Regions from separate parts of the Homo sapiens genome. Here region 2 is linked to region 1. Evidence: fine-mapped expression QTL. A gene starts in region 1. The other region holds a variant in brackets. All regions are shown on one strand. Distances are from middle to middle.

Evidence for each region. PIP is the estimated chance that this variant, and not a neighbour inherited with it, causes the effect.
Region 2: its variant is fine-mapped to the expression of CNN3 in esophagus muscle (GTEx, PIP above 0.99). The same link has a PIP of 0.9 or more in gastroesophageal junction.

What each region holds. Positions count from the first base shown.
Region 1 is chr1:94,922,518-94,933,398 of GRCh38, forward strand. CNN3 (calponin 3) reads right to left here and starts at 4,593. Exons shown (of 7, transcript NM_001839.5): 1 at 4,321-4,593. The coding sequence starts at 4,377. CNN3-DT (CNN3 divergent transcript) reads left to right here and starts at 3,843. Exons shown (of 3, transcript NR_168377.1): 1 at 3,843-4,223; 2 at 9,355-9,468. RefSeq lists silencers at 3,701-4,130, 4,231-5,110.
Region 2 is chr1:94,894,272-94,905,152 of GRCh38, forward strand. CNN3 (calponin 3) reads right to left here. Exons shown (of 7, transcript NM_001839.5): 2 at 9,132-9,253; 3 at 8,851-8,917; 4 at 7,850-7,987; 5 at 7,398-7,514; 6 at 5,100-5,246; 7 at 2,686-3,812. The coding sequence ends at 3,471. SLC44A3 (solute carrier family 44 member 3) reads left to right here. Exons shown (of 15, transcript NM_001114106.3): 15 at 547-975. The coding sequence ends at 651. Among named protein-coding and RNA genes, the nearest start is that of CNN3-DT, 27 kb to the right of the region's middle. The variant A/G (reference allele first, on the strand shown) is at 5,590.

The sequences.
Region 1 (10,881 bases):
GATAATAAGCAAACAAAAAAAGATTTTAATTAAAAACCAATTTCTGAACTTCCAAGTTTAAAAAGAAAAAAGCTAAGCCCACCAACACATTTTTACCAAGATTCTGGTGCTCTACCAGCAAGACAAGGCAAACCACCCTCGAGTGTAATTTATAGCTGGGTCACCCTGGGTTACTCTGATCAGAAGTACCCTCAGAGCAGCTGTGCGTCTAAAGCGCACCCGGCAAACAAGCTAGGAGGACTTCGCGGACACTGGTCCTATCTAATTATTACTGTATGATTGTTTAACTTCAACAACCAAAGATTTTGGTAATAAGCCTTTCAAGAAGGTTTTTAGGTGTTGAGAAATACCATTTTGTAATCAAGAAGATCCCGTGGGAAGCTGCTTTGCTCAAATCAGACATTCCAAGGGGGCAGAAGACTGGAAGAATGTGCATTCCAATTCCATGCTTCTTAATATTCCAGTTAGCTTCCTCCCAAAAAAACATACCGAGGTAAGATTATTTCAGCTCCCCATTTGTCAATTTATTTTTTCCACTTTCCCTGAGACCTGTAAGAAAGGTTCCTGCGGCATTTGCTCTAAACCTGATGAAGACATGCTTCACTGCGTCCTCTCTTCCCATCCAACTTTACGGGAAACTACCCCCAACTCCAACATTTTGCCAGGAAATACTGTGCTTCCCTTGAGTACCTGTTATGTTTTTTCATGGTTTACGAGGCACAGAGTTGTTTCACTTTTCATTTTGGTTCCCAAGATGCATTCAAGGGCCTGGTTCAACCTGTAGAATACCTGTAGGGCCCATTATTTTATGAGTGTTTCCATCCTCCACCGAACCATCCCTACCAGTGTCTGCATTTTCCCTGGCCCTTTTACTCTCTGATAGTTTTTGTAAACTCTAAGTTATTGATCATTTGGTGTCATTTTTTTCTTTGTTATTAAAGAAACTTTGTTCATATTCCAGGCTGAAAGACTGGAATTCTTAGGCTTTTTTTTTTTAAGGCTGTTTTCACACATCTTCTTGCCTATTAAAAAAAGTAAGCTTGTGTGTTCTGCCATGTATTATCATCTTACCAATCAAATGTCTTAAAGATTTTTCTCTGAAATTTTACTGATTAAAGTATTTAAAATCAGAGACTTCCTCAATTCATTGATGAAATGCTTTTACAGCTAGAATATTATATAACAAGACCAAAAGGTATTAATACAAACCAAATACTTAAAGAGGCAGGGACATACAAATCTTAGAAATATAATACTAAAAACTAATTTTCTGTTACTAAGAGCTAATAGCTACAATACAGTCACTGAGTTGAGTATAAGCCAGACACATCTCCACAACATGGTGTCTGGGGGTGGCAACTATTGTTTTCCCCCATTCTACAGAACAGAAGCTAGGAGAGAGATGTCAAGTAGCTAGCCCAGCATCACAGAAGGCAGGAAGTGGCAGAACGGGGACTAGAACTCACATATGCTAGACTCCCAGGTCCACTCCACACTGTCTCCCCAGGATGTTTCTATACTTCTTTGTTAAATGAGATGTGGGGGTAGATGGGGGGAATCTAGCATTCAAGCAATGTATCAATTATGCAATAAAGAAAAAGCAGGAAGGAATCAAAAGGTGTCAAACCACGCAATGTCACTTTTGTATATACCCACCTTTCACCCGGGAGTCCTGAGGCCTCAGTCAAAATGCAGCATCTCATACAAAGGCCTAGCAAACATGGCTATTTGATTCCCAGGCCCAGAACAGATCAGAAACAGTATGACATAAATAATCACAATGTCAAGAAGTGACAGGTGGGTAGCAAAAATGGGAGGAAGGGCTGGGCGCCATGGCTCACGCCTGTAATCCCAGCATTTTGGAAGGCCAAGGCAGGGGGAATCACCTGAGGTCAGGAGTTGGAGACCAGCCTGGCCAACATGGCAAAACCCTGTCTCTACTAAATAATACAAACATTAGCCGGGCATGGTGGCAGGCACCTGTAATCCCAGCTACTCGGGGCGCTGAGGCAGGAGAATCACTTGAACCTGGGAGGCGAAGGTTGCAGTGAGCTGAGATCGCGCCACTGCACTCCAGCCTGGGCGACAGAGCAAGACTCCGTCTCAAAAAAGAAAGAAAAAAAAATGGGGGGAAGGCGACAGACAGCAGAGTTTGTGTAGAACATCCCTAAGTACTTCACTCAACTAAGACATCGCTTTTAGAGTTAAAATTCTTAGAATAGTCCAACTTCTGTGACCTTGAGCAAATCTTTCTGAGCTTCAGTGTACTGATCTGTAAATGATGTTGGATAATCCCAGCAATCCTCCTCACCTTACAGGACTGCTCTGCTGTTAAGATCAAAAGACTTCCTATGAAAGAATACTGTCTGAAAGGACTACAAAAATGAAACGGGTTATTAAAAAATGGGTTTGGTGCTTAAAGGGATAAATCCACAGCTTTCATAACTAACTTTCCAAAGGTTCTAAAAACTGAGGTTTTACCGTTTTTAAATATTTACAATAATTACAGTGATCTAGCCTGTGTATGCATTTCCTTGGATCTGCTCAGTATTAAGCAGGAAAAGGGCAAAAGCTGCTACATTAGTCAGCAAAAAAGAAATTAGCATGGATATTATTAACATCCAAGAAAAGTAAGTCACTTGAAGGGCTGCCAACGTTATCAGTACCTCATTTACAATGCAAAAGGTAGTAGAGACTCAACTGCTGCCAGCCAAGAATCACTGGGGGGAATTACAATGAATGTGCACAACCAGGCCAAAGTATCACATCACATCCAACATTTTGGACATGCCCATTCCTCTGAAGTTTCCTAAAGTTCGGTTTGTAAATCCTGGAAGGAAGGAAACAGTAACTTGTTACAAACTTTTCAGTTGGTGAGGTTTGCACTCAATCATACACAAACCATTCACCTTTCTGCTCTCTAAAAAAATTGTTAGCAAACTGTTGTCTAATACGGGCAACACGTTTGAAAAGGTAAAGGACCTAAACATTTCAACTTTAGATACATAGACTAAAATCAACTCCTTGCTTCAAAGACAGTATGATGTGCAGACTAACAGCGGGAGACAAGAGCCACAACTCTCCCTTGGGGTTTGACAACGGTGCGCTTCATTACCTCTTTACATAATTCGCTTCACACCGCCTACCCCCGCAGCCCCGGGATGTTCCAGCTCTGACAATGCCAGTGCCTTCCACCAGCGGTCGGACGGTGCGGTGGCAATCCTGACATGCTTGGGCTCCCGGGAGGTTAATGGGAATTAAACCACAGGCAGCCCTCCTTTGTGGCGCTTTGGCCAGAACAGCAGAAAGGAGACAATGAGCGTTCTGTGCACAGTTCCGCGCCGATTGGCTGGTCTCTCCCCCCAGAAACCCCTGATGTCATGGGCTTGGAATGCAGGGAGGGAGGAAGGAAGGAGAGGATTTGGGGAGGGGGACGCCTCTCATCTCTTTCCCAGGCCAAAAGTCCTAAAGATAAACCTAACGCATTCTTGGGCTCAGTGGCAAAGCTGAGCGTCACCAAATCCCAATCGCTCCAAACTATAAGCCGCCTCAGCAAACAAGCCCCAAACAAAAGCAACCCACAAAAATAATCCTTTATGTCGTGAAAGTCTAATGTACTTCAAACTTCTCAGTGTTTCATAAAAAGTCTCAAGCCTAAGCAGATATCACTCGCACAGTGGCGCGCTCAGGCTTTGTCTCCATTTCCCGCAAAAGCAACAGCAGAAGCAGCAGCAGCAATCTGCCTCCAAATGCCTCCCAGGCACCGAGATCGGAGACTGTGATGGGTCCCGGACCGGCTTCCGTTCCTCGGGGCCCCTGGGGTCGGCGGGACATTAGGCGGTCTCTCTCCCCGTGGGGAGGCGCGGAGTCCGCCAGCACCCGGGGCCCGGGCAGATGGCGGGGGCTGCGGCAGCGGCTCGCCGGGTCCCTGGCCGCGCAGACGGGCTCCGCCTAAGGGCGAGTGGCCACGCAGGAGCGCCCCCTTCCCGGAGGGCGCGTTCTGCAGTCACCAAACGGCCCCCGAGACCCCCGCAGCCGGAAAGGCTGGCGCCGCGGGACTCCAGGCGCCCGGGAACCCACCGCCAGCCACTAGTCCTGTCCCACGGCGCGGGAACAAAGCCAGGCGGGTGCCCGGGAGCCGGCCCCGCAAGCCCGGGGACTGGACGCGACCGGGACAGGCAGAGACGCTCGCGCCGCCTCGACGGCCCCTCTCCAGGAAAACGGTGAGCCACAGCGCGAAGAGCAAACGAAGCACGGCCCAGCGCCAGGCCAGCCCAAGGGTGCCCCGGGGGCCCCCGCGCCCGCCCGAGCCAGGCGTACCTTGTTCTTGACTTCGGCCGAGAGCCCATAGGAAGGGCCCTTGTTGAAGTGGGTCATGGTGGTTCGGGCGGCGGGAAGAGACAGCGCTGGGGTCCGGGGTCTCTCGCACTTCGCTTCCCCGCTCCTGGCCCCGAGGAGTGGCCGCCGCGGGGGATGCTCGAACTCCCTCCTCTGGGAGGCGCAGGAGACGGCCGCGGGGCGCGGGCGGTGCCTGGGCGACTGGGTCCAACTGGGTGCTACAGAGCCTCGAGCTCCGCTGCGAAGCACCCGGCTGCCTCGCTCGCCGCCCGCACCTCGGTTCCCCACAGGCCGCCCCCGCCTCCGCCTGGGCCTTCGAGGATTGGCCGCCGGGCCCGACCAATGGAGGGCCGCCTCCTCCCGCCTCTGCGCCGAGGGGCGGTGCGGCCAATTGAAGGGCCGCGGGGGCCGCTTTCCCTCCCGCTCCCTCCCCGCGAGGTCCCCGGCCCCCGCCCCAGCCCTCACGCCACCGGGGCCGGCGGCTAGGCGGCCCCGCCCCCGGGCTAGGCAGGGCGCCTGGGGGCTTCCCAGCCACAGGCCATTCACGTCAACCTCCAGGCATCCTCCGCGGCGGGCCGGACCGGGCCGGCGGAGGGGAGCGGAAGCCCACCGGGGCTGGCCCGCCGCTGACCCGCCGCCTCCGTCTGCCTCCTCCCGGGCTCTGGGCCCAGCGCGCCCAGATGCCGGGCAGGACCCCTCCGCCCGCTGCTGGAACACCAATAGCAGCGTTGGAGCCTCTGGGCCGGAGGAACTGGGGCCTCCACCGACACCTGCTTCTTCCCTCACCTCGCAGCCTTCCACACCTGTTGATCTGACCTCTGCCCCGCTGCCGCCCAGGAGTAACCTAAGGCTTTTGGCCTGATTCGAGCTCACTCCGTCTAAACCTCTAAATGCGGTGCGAAAAAATCCTGGGGAATGTGCCATGCAAAGCCTGGGCATTTCAAGTGCTTTTCTGGATTCGCATCAACTCCTCTTTACAGGCATCTTTATCCGGAATTCAGCTCGTCCCAAACCCCACGTGGTGTAGCTCTGCTTGTGTTTTTGAATCCCGGGGCCTCTTTGAATCAGAAGCCCTTTGTATAGAGATAAGTATCCTTTAGGCCAGAATCAGCCTCCATTTTTTTCGCAGTCCCATTTCCTACCCGTAATACTTTCTTCTGATTTTAAAGCCATTTGATAGAGAAGGGACAGGGAACAGAACCTTCGCCCCCCGCCTGAGCAGCTGGTAGACTAGATATCTTCCAAACATTATCTCATTTACTTCCCTGGAGTTACAAATAGGTAGATTTCATGTCCGTTGAGGGGTGAGAAAGCTGAAACTTTGAGACTTAAGAATCCTGGCCGAGGTCAGCCTCCTCCGAAGCTTCATCTCTTGCCACCACTTTCTGGTGCACACCTAGGACAGATTTCAATCCCTGAGATCCCAGGATGAAACCTATGTTTGCCAAATACCAGCTACTGTGCCAGAAGAGATCATGGAACCAGGTGTGGAAAGCTGCTTGAGAAGAGGAGCCAAAACATCATAGTTGAACCGTCCTGGAATAGAAGTGAGTAAGGTGAACCAGGTGTGGTGGCTCATGCCTGTAATCCTAGCACTTTGGGAGACCGAGGTGGGAGGATTGCTTGAGGCCTGGAGTTCAGGAACATCCTGGGCAACATAGCAAGATCCTGTCTCTACAAAAAATCCAAAGTTTTTTTAAATTAAAAAAAAAAAGTGAGTAAGGCAGCTTGAACCGGAAATGCACAAAACTGCTATCCAGTTTGCAAGGCTTTTCCCAATGACTTTGAGGGATGGAACCTGAAGGAAGCGGGAGGAGGCAAATAGGGAGGAAAGTGAAATGATTTATAAATGACTTGCTAATTTTGTCCAAAGGGAGTAATGATAATTAGGGCATTCTTCCCACACGAAGATGACACAATTGACCCAATATCATTGAGGCTAACAGTTTGGGCTGTTTTTCCAGTAGTATGACAGTGACGGTGTGTCAACCGCAGGACCTCACCCACATTTCTTTGGGACCTAGGAGTGTGGGAAATAGCAGCCAGATTTGAGGTACAAATCATGGTGTCCAGCCTGCAAAGCCTTTTTGCAGCAATCTAAGCCTGACTGCTCCTGTTGTATGCTCAAAGTCATTTTAATCTACTTTAGCTTATTGTAAAATGTTCAAGAATTGTATTTTGTCTTGAAAACCATGAATTTTATTGTTTAGGGGGAGTTATTTTTTAAGGAGTGCAGGATTTCAGTTTTGGATGATGAAAAAGTTTTGAAGATGGGTAGTGACAGTGGTCACACAACATTGTAAATGTACTTAATGCCATTGTACACTTACGTGACTTTAAAGTAAACATGAAATTTTCTACATTTGTTTGTTTGATCAACTGTTATCCTCCCTAAGGTACTTGAAGTTCTTTCTGACATTGCCACTGGAACTTACTATTTAAATATTGTTGGTCCTCTTGGATTCCATCAGTACTCCAGAGACTTCCTTCGTTTCTAATTTAACTCATTGTGTAAGAATACGTAATGCTGTTGTTAGCACTAGGGAATGTATCTGAGTCTCATGCACCAAAGTGTGTTAGCAGCAGCAAATCTGTATGGGTCTGCAGCAACCTCAATTCTTGCCTCCTCCAAAGAAAGAATTCTACCGAGAGGCATAAGGCAGAGGGAGAGGCCAAGGCACGTTTTAGAGCAGGAGTGAAAGTTAGAGCAAGAATGAAACGAAGTAATGTACACTTGGAAGAGGGCCAGGCGGGCAACTTGAGAGATTCAAGTGCGCTGCTTGACCTTTGACTTGGGGTTTTATACATTGGCATGCTTCCAGGGGGTTGTGTCCCTTTTCCCCTGATTCTTCCCTTGAGGTGGGCTGTCTGCATGTGCAGTGGCCTGCCAGCACTTGGGAGGGACCACATGCTCAGTGTGTTAACTGAGGTTGTACGCATGCTCACTTGAGGCATTCTTCGCTTACTAGTCAAGTGTTCCTAGAAGAAGGTCATATATGAGTACCAGTTAAATGCCACCATTTTGCCTCTTAGTTCACACCTGTGAGCCCACTCAGCCAACTCCTAAGATCCTATCCAGAAGCTGCTGATCACCAGTTGTAGGTATTTTCTAGCCATTGGGAGACTGCCTTTCCCTGGTGCCGGCTGTGACCAGTTATTATTTTAGAGAGACAGTTTAACAACTGCCTGACCACCTGATGGTTGCGTGACATTCCTGGTGGGAGCGGGGAGCCCTCTCCTGCTCTGCTTGTGTCTGACTACCTACTGTGGCACTATAGAATCAAATGAGAAAAACTTAAAATTTGGGACAATTTTAACAGCTTTATTGAAGTATATTGATATAACAAAGTATATTTAAAGTGTTCAGTTTGATACACACATATACACATAGATACACCTATTTAAAAACCCATCACCACAACAGACAAAGGACATATTCATCATACCCAAAAGTTTCCTCATGTAGCCCCTCCCTCCCAGTCTTCCTTACCTCTCCACCCCACCAGGCAACCCCTGATATGCTTTATGTAACTATACATTAATTTGTATTTCCTAGAATTTTATATAATTGGAATCACACATTGTATATTCTGTTTTATCTGGCTTCTTTCACTCAGCAAAATTATTACGAGATTCACTGACGTTGTAGCATGTATCATTAGTTCATTCCTTTTATTACTGAGTAGTATTCAACTGTAGGGATACACCAGTGATTTTACCCATTCCCTTATTGATGAACATTTTGGTTGTTTCTAGATTTTGGCTATTGCAAATAAAGCTGCTATGAACATTCATGTACAAGTCTTTGTATGGACATATGCTTTAATTTCTCTCCCATAAATACCTATAAATGGAATGGCTGGATCAAGTGAAAGATGTATATTTCACTTTTTAAGAAACTGCAAACTTTTTCCAAAATGATTGTACCATTTTACATTCCCACCAGTGCGTATGAGAGTTCCAGTTCCTCTGCTTCCTCACCAACAGTTGGTAGGTCAGTTTTTTTAAATTTAGTCATTCTTATAGATGTGGAGTATGGTATCTCATTATGGTTTTAATTTGAATTCCCTTAATACGTAATGATGTTGGGCTTCTTTTCATGTATTTATTTGCCATCTGTGTATCTTTTTCATGAAATGTTTGTTCAGATCTTTTGCCTATTTTTATTGGATTGTGTGTTTTCTTATTATGGTATTTAACTTGTCACTGTTAGGATACATTTCAAAAATCCTGACCAAGTTCTAACAGTAGAATGTGTCAGTAAATGCTCAGTTTAAGTAAAATGTCACATTGCAAACTAACTACCAGGGTGTGGCCCAGCAATCTTAAGTACTTTCCCTGGAAGTTTCTGTAATATGCAGAACACTTTCAATTGAAATAAATGCTGTTAAGGAGGTCAACTCAACCTTTCCAAATTTTTATTAATTAAAAGCAGTTGTTGGAGAGTTGTAGAAAAGTATTTTTTCACAGAGGCAAATTTGTGGGTCATATTGCCATACATCTTGCCACGAAAATAATAACATAAAGTGTTTTGAAGAATTCACCCTGTAAATCTGTCAGAGGCATGTGAACCAAAGCAACTCCATCTTGAATAGGGGCTAGGTAAAATAAGGCTGAGACCTGCTAGGCTGCATTCCCAGACGGTTAAGGCATTCTAAGTCACAGAATGAGTTAGGAGGTCAGCACAAGGTACAGGTCATAAAGACTTTGCTGATAAAACAGGTTTCAGTAAAGAAGCCAGCCAAAACCCACCAAAACCAAAATGGCGGCAAGAATGACCTCTGGTCGTCCTCACTGCTACACTCCCACCAGCGCCATGACAGTTTGCAAATGCCATGGCAACATCAGGAAGTTGCCCTATATGATCTAAAAAAAGGAGGCATGAATAAGCCACCCCTTGTTTAGCGTATCATCAAGAAATAACTATAAATAAGGGCAACCGGCAGCCCAAGGGGCTGCTCAGTCTGGAGTAGCCATTTTTTTATTCCTCCTAATAAACTTGCTTTCACTTTACAGACTCGCCCTGAATTCTTTCTTGTGTGAAATCCAAGAGCCCTCTCTTGGGGTTGGATCGGGACCCTGTTCCTGTAACAAGTCCACAATGCCAGAGAATTAAAGAGAACCACAAAGGTATGGATCAGTTATGGTAAAGGCAGAAGGGACCCTAAAAGGCTCAGAGGCTAAGGGACTTTTAAGCACCTGCTATGTGCTAAGCACTATTAGAGGCACATAACAGGCAGTGAGATCAAAATTCATCACCCAAATAGGGGCATTTTTGAGAGTGAAAGGGCACTATTAATATTTTTTTGTTTCAGGCAGTCCTGATAAAGCCCCTTCATAGTGTGCTCATTTCACCCTCAAAAGTGTCCCGTTGAGATGCTAAATCACAGTCACCCCACTTATAGGCATCACTTGCAATAACCCTATAATAATCAATATTATCTATTCCTACTTTATAATCAAAAACTAAGGTTTAGTATGGTACACAACTCGGTCAATATCAAACAGTTAACAGAGAGCAGAGTTGGGATTTGAAACCAGGCCTGGTTTAGAATGATTGCTCAAAAACCAACTTCCCAGACTCCTGAAGAATCTGAAGTCACCCTTTTTTGAGGGGGGCAAGGGGGGATGCTTTATGGAATTTATTATAAAAATGCCCCTGGCCTGGTGCAGTGGCTCACACCTGTAATCCCAGCTCTTTGGGAGGCAAGCGGATCACATGAGGCCAGGACTTCGAGACCAGCCTGGGCAACATGGTGAAACCCCGTCTCTACTAAAAATACAAAAATTAGCCGGCAGGGTGGCACACACCTGTAGTCATAGCTACTCAGGAGGCTGAGGCGAGAGAATTGCTTGAACCCAGAGGTGCAGATTGCAGTGAGCCAAGATTGCACCACTGCACTCCAGACTGGGAGACTGCACTCCAGCAGAGTGAGACTCTGTCTTAAAAAAAAAAGCTCCTATCCTTTACATCTTTTTCTTTATAATAACAACTTTGTATTGGATTTGGCAGTGATCCTTTGTTGTTGCCCATCTTCATTTGAAATCAGTTTTTCCAAAACACATGTGAGCAGCCGAATAGAAGAGATGCATAGGATGAGGTATGGGAGAAGGGGAGCAGAACTGCCACGGCCTCTCTGTCACGCCCCACTTCAGGAACCTTCATGGGTTCAGCTACCTGGAAGCTCCCTGAAATTGCTCTTGTAAGGTACATTTGCTCCTTTTTCCCCTCCCTTTGGAGAGTGCTCACCAGTTACTCCAGGTGATACTATTAGTACATCCATCGTGTGCCACCTTTTCCACCAGAGGCAAGCATGTGGCGGACGTTTCAAAGGGATTACCTTATCCCCCACTAGGCCAAGTACTGGGCTCAAGGAGGCACATGACCCAAACAAGGTCCACCGGAGTTCTTTATGATAAACAGATATGGAAGCTGAAAACGAAGTCAAACCGACTTAGACAAAAAGTGGACTTTAGTGGTTCATGTGACATACAAGTCAAGGAGATGTAGCATTGGGCATGGCTAGAGTCAAGGACTCAGTC
Region 2 (10,881 bases), 28 kb before region 1:
ACTGAAGAAGCCTCAAGAACTCTCTGACCTTCTCCCAAAGCACAGGATGAAGCTGTCATCTGAATGAAATCCCCTTATCTGCCTAAAGTCCAGACCCACCAAAGAAAAAAACCACCTCTGGCCCCTTCCCTGAGTTTTCCATTAACTGGACTTATATAGCAGAAACAAAGACTAAATTCAGTCAACACACCTGGACAGACTTTTGTCACAAACCACTGTCCTGTGGGCCCAACAGACTTTGTTCCCAGCCACTAAGTGTTCTTCAAGCTCATTAAACTCCCCTAAAAGTAATTCACCACCCCCATAAAATCATCCACACTTCCCCATCTCCCTTTCCCAAAAACAGAATTATCTGTACCCCATTTAGACACTCACTGTGATTCTCCCCTGTGCTACTTTATATGCCATTTCTCCTGTTAATCTGCCTTTTGTAAGTTAATTCTTCAGCAAACCGTCAGAGGGCAAAGGAGAAGTTTTCCCTCGGCCCCTACGTTATCAACAGTACAGACACATAATACTATTCTAACTTGTTCTTTTGTTTTTCAGAGTTTCGTAAAAAGGAGCAACAAATTAAACAATGCAAGGGCACAGCAGGACAAGCACTCATTAAGGAATGAGGAGGGAACAGAACTCCAGGCCATTGTGAGATAGATACCCATTTAGGTATCTGTACCTGGAAAACATTTCCTTCTAAGAGCCATTTACAGAATAGAAGATGAGACCACTAGAGAAAAGTTAGTGAATTTTTTTTTAAAAGACCTAATAAACCCTATTCTTCCTCATTGTCTTTGTCATTATTGTTTGACCAGGTAACAATACTGGAACTATATTAGTTTACCTTTTTTTGTACAAATTAGGACAGAAAAACTCTTCTAAAACCATGTTTATATGCATCAACTTACAAAGTACACTATGTAAGAACTGAGGTAAGTTTGTAAGTGCACAACTAATAAATAAACCTTTTTAAGATAAGGATTTTGTTAGCAGAAATCTCTGGATTTTTTTTTTTAAAGGGACAGCATCTCACTATGTTCCCAAGGTTGGAGTACAGTGTCTATGCACAGGTGCCATCATAGCTCACTGCGGCCTCCAGCTCTTAGGCTCAAGTGATCCTCCTGCCTCAGCCTCCCAAGCAGCTGGGACTACAGGCATGCCACCATGCCCAGCTTGGAAAGTTGCTTTTATACAGAGTAGGATACTTCCCTACTCAGCCAATCCTGGAAATATGCTAAATGGATTAACTTTTCAAAGTACAATTCTTAGATTTGGTGACAATAAAAGCCAAAACTGTCTACTCTAACATGAACTACCACCTGAACTGGGCATGTACAGGAGAGGCAGGAGTGTAACCAATGATTTAGTCTGTGCACATGCTCTTCCTTTTTTTCTGAATACTCTTCCTCCTCTTTGCTAATGGCAAACTCCTACTTATTCTTCAAAACCCAGCTCTGATAGCATCATGCTTCTGCAATGCCTCTGAGCAGCATTACTTGCCCTCTCTTCTGTCCTTTTCCTCCATGCTCTTCTCTGATATGACTGTGAATCCACTTTCTGTTATGTCTCTCCACCAGATCACATTCCGTGATGGCACACACAATTTATCCAAACTCCTGATACACAAGCACTCCTCTTACAGCAGACATTCTGGAAGAAGTGGTTTTCAACCACAGCCCCACCTGAGAAATTACCTGGAGACAGATTTTTAAAAATACTTCTGCCTGGACCTCAGAGATTTATGTAGATGGGAGTGAGGGGAAGAGCTTTTCGTTTTTAAAACTCTAACCAAATAGAAACATTTTAACATGTTGATTGGCAGCCTCATGGGAATCAATCTGACTTAAATGGCAGGGCAGGTAGTGTGATATAAGGCTTCCCTTCCCTAAACTTTGAAGAGTCAAAGATGACAAGGAAAGCCTTAGAACTCAGGTCTACTTTAAATGCAATGACTTTTTTCTTAAATGCCACCATTGAATTAGGTTGACTCCAATAGTTTCCTTTACAAGCAGTTTCCCAGAAGCATTAAACCTAGTCATTGTGGAATGATGAGCAAATAGCCTTCACTTTTGTGGGCTCATCAAACCATGTGTATATACTCCTCATCTCTCAGCAAAAAACAGACGGTTTTCGCCCCCAAACCTAATAGAGCCAATCCTATTAGAAGACATGGCTTGGCTGAGACAATGTCGGAAAGTGTGAGTTACTAATTTTCTTTTAGTGACTGCATTTTTGTCACTATGACACCTAGCTATTGTTTGTCCTTCCCTCTGTCAGGACTGAAGGTTTATGTTTCACTATAAACCCTGGCTTATTACCAAGCAGCACATCCTATGGCTGACCTAGCATGTTTCTTATTCATGTTTACTTACCCTAAGATAGGAAAATTCCCCACCCCTCCTGTCAATATTCCTAAAGATTTTAAGATTATTCCAAGTTGAATTTAAGATGAATCTGGGCCAGCCAAGTCAGTGAAATAAGCAAGGGTCAGAAAATGATTAGAATTCTGTCATTTACTATGTGTAATGGTTTCCTAAGCCTCAATCTCCTTAAGCATAGAGTGCAGTGTTGTGTGAAGTAAATAAAATGTTAATGTACCTTGTAACAGTACCTAGGAAAAAGGTACTTAAAAAAAAATCTGACCCTACCTATCTAGAAGCTAGCCAGAAAATAATCAGCCTGTGGTTCATATGAAAGTTCAAAAAAAATATTTATTTATAAAAAATACAATGGGATAAGTTTATGCTGAGAAATGCAGCAATAAATACAGTTGAAGAAAACAGAGCAACTCTACATTGATACATTGGCACAAACAGGAAGAGCAAATGCATCACCCAGGCCTAAATGTCCACAGGCCACTTTTGTACATGCTCTTTTAGAAACACCACTCTGAAAAGATCTTGTTCGCTAGGTAAGAGAATGAGTACACATATAATCACAAATGCACACTGATCATGACTTTATTTAAAAATTAGCAAACAATACTGTAGAAACATTGATATGTAAATTTCTAAAATGCTGCATCTTAAATTTAGTTGGCAAAGACCACATTTAGCAATAAGCATGAGTTTAGTCTTCCATGTAGAAACCAGATACACTAAACTGTAAAAAAAAAAAAAAAAAAAAAAAGTTTCCTATTGTTTGAAAATACCAGTTTAATATAAGATTGTAAAAATGCATAGATTTTTGCATAAAAGAACTGGCTGTACAAGAGTACTCCCCTTTCACAGTATTCCTTTTTACTTCATATGCGAGTTATTGATTATGCTGTAGGATTTAACTATTACAGCACTAAAAGGCAACTATTGAGGGAAGAGGCAGAAAAAGGAAAAAGGAATGTACGTAAGGCAATTTTTCTTAAAAGTACAATAAGCTTAATAGTGTTTTAGGAAGACAAGATAAAAATTACTCAAGGCTAGCTTGGTTCTCACTGAATAAAAACAAAGGACTAAATACTGAGCTCCTTCTGTGTGGATCTAATAATCAATGCCTTGGTCGCTATATTGGTAATCTCTGGGGTAGTCATCCTGGTACTCGCCATGATACTCATCAGGGTATTCTGCCTGATAATCACTATCACTGATTTCCGAACCATTTGTTCCTGTTCCTTGGCTTCCGTTGTGAATGACAGGTTCTGTAGGAGCAGCACAGTATTTGGGATCATATACTTGCCGCCCAAGCCCATACACACTCATTCCTTTCTGGGAAGCAACTTTGTTGGTACCCATCTGTAGGGAAATTGTCGAGTTGTCCACCGGCTGTAATGTTAGCTTCTGATCATAGATGTCTCTTCTGGTACCTGGTGCTAACATCCCTGCCTGGTATTAGAACATAGTATAAAAGTTAAAACAGCAGCTAGAATCTATTCTTGTGAATAATTTATAAATTATAGAATTCACATTGAATATGAACAGTAATACATGAACTTTCATTTGGTTCAGGGGTAAAGCTAGCTTAACCAAAATATCCTGATACCGAATCACTTCCATGAAGCAATATTCATTGGCTTTTGAGCTAGGTGAGACCTTTCTTCAAAATCCTTGCTCTGCTATAAAATTACTATGTGGCCTCAAACACGTAAATTTAGCTTTAGGTTTCTCAAACTGCAAAATGGAGACATTACTACCTACTCTGGATTTAAGAGAGAATGAGACATAAAGAATGTGAAATCATAATGCTTCCACACCAGAAAGTTCCATGTGAATGCCCATGGGGACCACATACATTATCTGGGTTACCAATTTCAAAAATTTATAATATATTCAACAGAAACTATGTTGAGCAGATCTTAAGGACTTGAGTCTTTTCAAAAGGCTGAGATACAGAAGAACCAGCCACTTCACAGCCACTCCCCTCTTTTTCAGAGTACAGTAACTCATACTTCATCTCTCTACTTACATCAAGCACACACTTCCAGGTTCAGAGTGGGTAGAAAAGTAAACGTGAGTGGCAGCTATGAGAGACATAATGCCGCACCCGGTAGGATGTGTTCCATAAGGGCAAAGTTTGATAAATCTCCCTTGGACTCGGTAAGAAAATGTTTTTCAAACCCTATCCCAGCTGTTGTTGGATGTGAGACCTGTCTGTTCTCAAATGGTTGTTGAACTTCCTTCTGAGGTGCTGGTGATCTATTTTTAACAAGGAAATATTTCTATCTTGGATGTGGTATACTGGTATTTTCACCATGTTGCATTTCCATCTCCTTATATTGACACATCTAATAGGAATGCTAGTTAAATCCTTCTTAGTGGAACACCAGGTAATTTTACCTATTAATTAAGGGCTCCTTAAAAAAAAAAGTCAGCATTTAAATGAGCAATATTTTACTTGGATTTTGGAGCAAGAACACTGTAATAAACATATCTTTTTTTCTGCTGGCTAGGTAGAAAGGCCAGCTGTTCTAACTGCCAACAAAAACCACGAGACACATCATGCTTTTGCTGCTATCGAAAAGGTCTTTTGATTATTTTGCTTTCCCAGCAAAGTCCACATTCCTGAAGGAATATACTCTAAATAAACTATACAAAAAATACCTACTTTAAACTTCTGGTTAATAAAAATAAGGTAAGTGTACTCTTGTACACGTATAAAAAGGTATTGCTTACCTGGCTGGCTCCTTTATTAGTGCCCATCTGCAGACTAATTGTGGTCTGGTCAAAAGGTTTGTCAGTTTGCATTTTGGGATCATAAAGATGCCTCCTAGTCCCGTAAGCTGTCATACCTGCCTGGCTGGCACATTTGTTGGTTCCCATCTTTTAAGTTAAAAATAAAATTGCACAAATTATCAGATGTCAACAATATACACAACACAAACAAAACTTTCCATGCTACCAAAAAGACAGAAGGGGCACAACCGACAAGTTACTGAGCTGAGGCTCCAGTCAACTCTTCTATGTGTCTACAAACAAATTTCAAGTGCTAACTTTAAAAAGAAAATTTTAAAGTCACTATAGATAAAAACTCATACATAGAAGAATTAAACACACTTTAACAGGTGGACTGACACACCAAAAGTCATTACAGTGGCAGAATAATTTCCTCTGCTACTCTTTCCCCAGATAACCAAATTAAGAGGTACCAGCTTCGGTTATTTCA[A/G]CAGAAGTAATCCTAGGCCAAGCAATATGCTGTTCTACTCCAGGAATGTTTTACATAAAATGTGAAAGCAAATGCCAAGTGTTTTCTCTGGGAGCTTAACAAGGGCTTTTTAAAGTTTCAAAATCACCAACATTTTCTCCAGAAAGGAACCACATTTTATTCCTGTAACTCCCATGTCCTTGGACAGAGCTGGAGAAAGGTGGAATGAGGAATTTGAACTCAGCAAAGTTCAGGGAAACAATAATTAATTTTTCTTCCCCACTGAGAACAGTATGGCTTCAGGACCAACCATTACACCCTGTTCCACTGGTTAGGCACACTTTTCTGATGTTGGATCTTTTTTCTTTAAAAATAAGATTAAAGAAAATCTTTATTACTAATATAAAATCTGTTCATTGAAGAAAATTCAGAAAACACATATAAGCAAAAAGGAGGGGGGAAAAATCATTGTGATACCACCATCCATTCACTGTCAACATTTGTGAATATCCTTTTAGCTTTTTAACCTATGTGTCTATGTATATATCTATAGATGCACATATATACAAATACATACAAAAACATGTGCATTTTTAATTTTAAAAATCCATACTGACCACAGTATTTGATGATCTGATTTTTTTCCCCCATAACCTATCTTTTCAAACTCTAGTGTATAATTTTACATTACACTTTGCTTTTATGGAGTTGTAATTCAACCAACTGACTACTGTTCTGAAATTTAGGTTTCCAGTTTCTCACCACCAATACAATTTTGTACTGTGTAAAAATAAATCTAACTTGCATAGACTCAGTAGAAAGGGGCACTGTATCAAGCAGGTACAGTGGCTTTTGGAGAGTAAAGCCAACAGCATTTGGGGAATTAGCAATGACGTTTCCATGACCAGTGAAGAGAACAATGAAGAGAAGGAAAACATCTGAACTACGTATTTCAGAAGAATTTAAACTGACAAATTCTAACAGGGCTTGGCTGCTATATCATGATTTGGTACTGTAAATAAGTGACTTTGGCATTAAGGTCGTGTAAAATTGCCTAATTTGGTCAATAACATTAAGGAATTTATAAAGTACATTTCTGGCTGGGTGTGGTAGCTCATGCCTGTAATCTCAGCACTTCGGGAGGCCAAGGCAGGAGGACTGCTTGAGCTCCAGAGTTTGAGACTATCCTGGGCAACAAAGTGAGATCCCATCTATATATAAAAGATAAAACAGGCCAGGTGCAGTAGTTCACGCCTGTAATCCAAGCACTTTGGGAGGCCGAGGTGGGCAGATCACCTGAGGTCAGGAGTTCAAGACCAGCCTGGCCAACATGGTGAAATCCTATCTCTACTAAAACTACAAAACTTAGCCGGGCATGGTGGCTCATTCCCATAATCCCAGCTACTTGGCAGGCTGAGGCAGGAGAATTGCTTGAACCCAGGAGGTGGAGGTTACAGTGAGCCGAGATCGCGTCACTGCACTCCAGCCTGGGCAAAAGAGTGAGACTCTGTCTCAAAAAAAAAAAGATAAAATAAAAAATTTAAAAGTGTATTTTTCTTTTTTAAAAAAAAAAAAAAGACAATATGATTCAATTAAAAATTTTCGTTTCCTGGAGAAATAATTGTCAAGTCAGGTGGCATACCTGAGGTTTCCTCTAAAAAATTATCACTGTCTTATGGGCTTTATAAATAGATATAAATTGTATAAACTACACCCCCCCCCCAGTACTATAGTACTTCTGTCTATTCTTAGGAGAGGCTTAATATTTTGCATGGTGAGAATTAATCATATTGAATAAGTAATTGAATAAGCAACACCACATTACTTACCTGCAGACCAATTACACTTTGGCCAGCTTTTAATTTTCCTTCATCAAAACGTCTTGTTTGTTTTTCTGCATACTTAACTCCAATGTCAATGGTTGTATGGAATCCTTTTGTTTTAGCCTAGACAGAAACATGCACACTAACTGAAAAGGCCAACAGAGTTTCACAGAAGGAACAACAAAGAAATGATATGTCCATAGACAAAGGGGCCCAAACTAGAGATAAAAAGTATTTAAGGCTGTTCAATAATATACTGCATCATTTGAAATGTGAGTGTTCTAAGTAAGCTATCTAGTACGATGCAGCTGATGTCAGCAGCCTTTCCACAAAGCTACTAATTACAGAAGAGACAGGCCCCGCCCCACCTGGTCTGAACCCCCATGAAAAAGCAATGATGCAATTCATCACCAATGTGGTGGGAATCTGTTAACCAGCCATTAAAGACATGTACGTACCAGACCTGCTAGAGCCACCAGAGTAGTCTGAACCTGGGTCATGTTTCCATTCTCAAAAAGATCATTTGCTTCGAATATGTCATGTGGCTTCATACCATAAGCCTGAATAGCTTTAATAAAGTTGCCAATATTCTCCAACTATAAAGAAGAAGAGTTTTATAATTTCTGGAGCTAAATATTGACATTCATAATTTCTAAGAATTCCAAGTCTTCATAAACAGTTATAAGACGCTGCCCAGAAAGCTGTTTGACAAGGATTCAACCAAATACATACTAAGCATGGCTCTCTCTGGAACAGGAAAGAGCAAGAAGAGAGTGTGTCTCTCACTGTGGGTCACATCACAGTCTTAATATTTTTAAGCAGTTACGTGTTTTCAGTTTTTATGGGCAAGATCTTCCTTATATATTTTAAAAGGATTCTGTATCAGAGCTATCCAGGCCTGGAATTTTATTTGTCAAAAGGTGTATAATTACTCATACTAATAAATAATTCATTATGTGTTATTTTAATTTCAGAATACATTTGTGGTTACTAAATACTCATTCTCTCATATCTCCAAACACATGTTCAAGACCAGTAAGTATCCCATTTTCCTTCCTCATACACACTCATGAACTAAGGTTATGTCTGATACAGTGCTCTGCAGTCCACTGTTAGTTATGTGGAATGCCTTGTTTTTTCCCTTATCCTTAAGGTCTGGGTTGCATTTCTCTGTGTAAGCTGTGTCAAGTCCTTTCTGAATGTACACAGACTAAATATAGGAAAACTTCTAAGCTAAACGTAATAATTACAGAACTAGTTAAATAAGTAATTACAGAACCATTACAAAAGGGCAAAAAATTAAATATGCACAAATTTCTGCTACAATGTCTATGTAAAAACCGTAATCAAAAAGTTAAAAAAAAAAAAAACACAAAACCAAAAAACCAAACCTGAAATCAAGTTTTCACTACATAAAATGCAACCAACTAGAACCAGAGGTGGTTGGTTTGGCTGTTACCTGAGGCCAGTTCAGTGAGGACTCGTTGACCTTCTTCACTGAGCCTGGCTGTAGCTTGTTTATAAGTCTGAAAAGAAAAATATGAGAGACATCTTATTTACTGGCACACAAAAACAAGGATTGAAATATCAAGTTGCTCCCTTTAGCATCAGTAAGGGAAAGCATTAAAGATATCTGTAGAATATCAAGGTCTGACACCCTGGGCTGAGAAGGAGAGTGAGAGAGAAGGCTGTGGAAAGAACTGGAAGAGCAGAAACAGATTCTGGAGGGCTGTAACTCACTCGCAGAGGATGATGCCATCCTTTAAGCCCAGCTGGAAGTTGGGGCCAATGCTCATGCCTGTCACCTCTTCTATCCAATTGCGAAGATCTTCTTCTGCCTGATGATCATACTTGGAAGCAATCTGAAATACAGGTTAACTCACTTTAGAAGAATTTCACAAAAGCATCAGAAACTGCCGACTCACAACGCGCTCTGCTTTCACTAGCCATTAAGACCACAGCTGTGAAGTGTAGTAAATGACACTCAATAGATCTCAATGGCAAACTTAACCGTTACAACTTCAGTAACTAATAACAAATTTTTGGTGAAGACCGTGTCATACAAAATTTTGAACAGACCATGGAGAGGCTGGGACTGACAAGGAGAGAACATCAATCAAGAGACATCAGATTTCATGATCCACAGGAAGTGACAAGGATTTAATGGTATGTTACAATATGGCACTCAAACTTTAAGGTTTAAGTCATTAATCACCCTATTCCAAAAAAAGCTGGGGAAAGGATTCTGACACATGCAGTTATTTTACAGAGTATCTCACCTGGCCAATACATAACATTCCAATAGTTTTGTTGACTGGAAAGTTCTGGTATTTGCCTTCTATTCAGCCAAATACACACTATATACTAAACACACACACACACACTTTCCTCAGTACTAATTACTGTACAATATTTAAATTCTGTTTATGTAGTCTCTATCCTATTAGACTTCTTACAGGCAGGAAAAGCATCTAGTTCATTCAGATTCTTAGTATCTAGAATTGAACCTGACACCCAAACATGTGATAAAACTAAAAGAAAGTTTAACTTTTTACTTGCAGAATTCAAAAATAAAGGCCAACTTACCAACACAAATGCTATGCTATTATACATGGTAAAACTATTAAACATAAGTTTTGAAAGATCCCTTTTTAATAAGACCAGACCTCAATTTAAAATAATTGAAAAAATAAAATTTAAACAAAATATTGTGAAAAAAATCACATGCCCAAGTTCTTAAGCTATCCCTTGTCCTGGAGTCCCCTTAAAGTGGCTGGTCAATCAGGGTTATGGAGAACACAGCTGAGGCAGGCATAGTGGCTCACACCTGTAATCTCGGCACTTTGGGACTGAGCTGGGTGGATCTCTTGAGTCAGGAGTTCGAGACTAGCCTGCACAACATTGAGAGACCTTGTCTCTACTAAAAATAAAAAATTCAGCTGGGCTTGACGATGCATGCCTGTCATCCCAGTGACTTGGAAGGCTGAGGTAGGAAGATCACTTGAGCCCACGAGATCGAGGCTACAGTGAGCCATGATCACACCACTGCACTCCAGCCTGGGCAGCAGAGTGAGACCCTGTCTCCCGCCCCACTGCCAAAAAAAAACCCACAGCTGGGAAGAAGGAAAGATCCAGTATCATTTGTCTTCTCATTCAGCACTGGTGAAAATGCCAAGTATACATAGGAAATGCTCAGGAGATAGAGATCATGAGCTTGGGAATCAATTACATCATTGGAAATGGGAATGAAGGTAGAAATGTCTGCTGTGTCCATAAGACATAGGGAGGTTTAATCATTGGAAGAAATGAAATGGCATCTTGACATTTTAGTCACAAAGAAGTCCCACAAGTTCCAGTCTACACCACTCACGGAGGAACCAAGCAGAACTGTGGGAAATGCCCTAGGTTCATAGTGCCAGAGCATATAGGACTGTGGGCTGCATTCAGGTCCTTTCCAAGGGAGAGAGCCTGATCACCAGGATCAGGACAG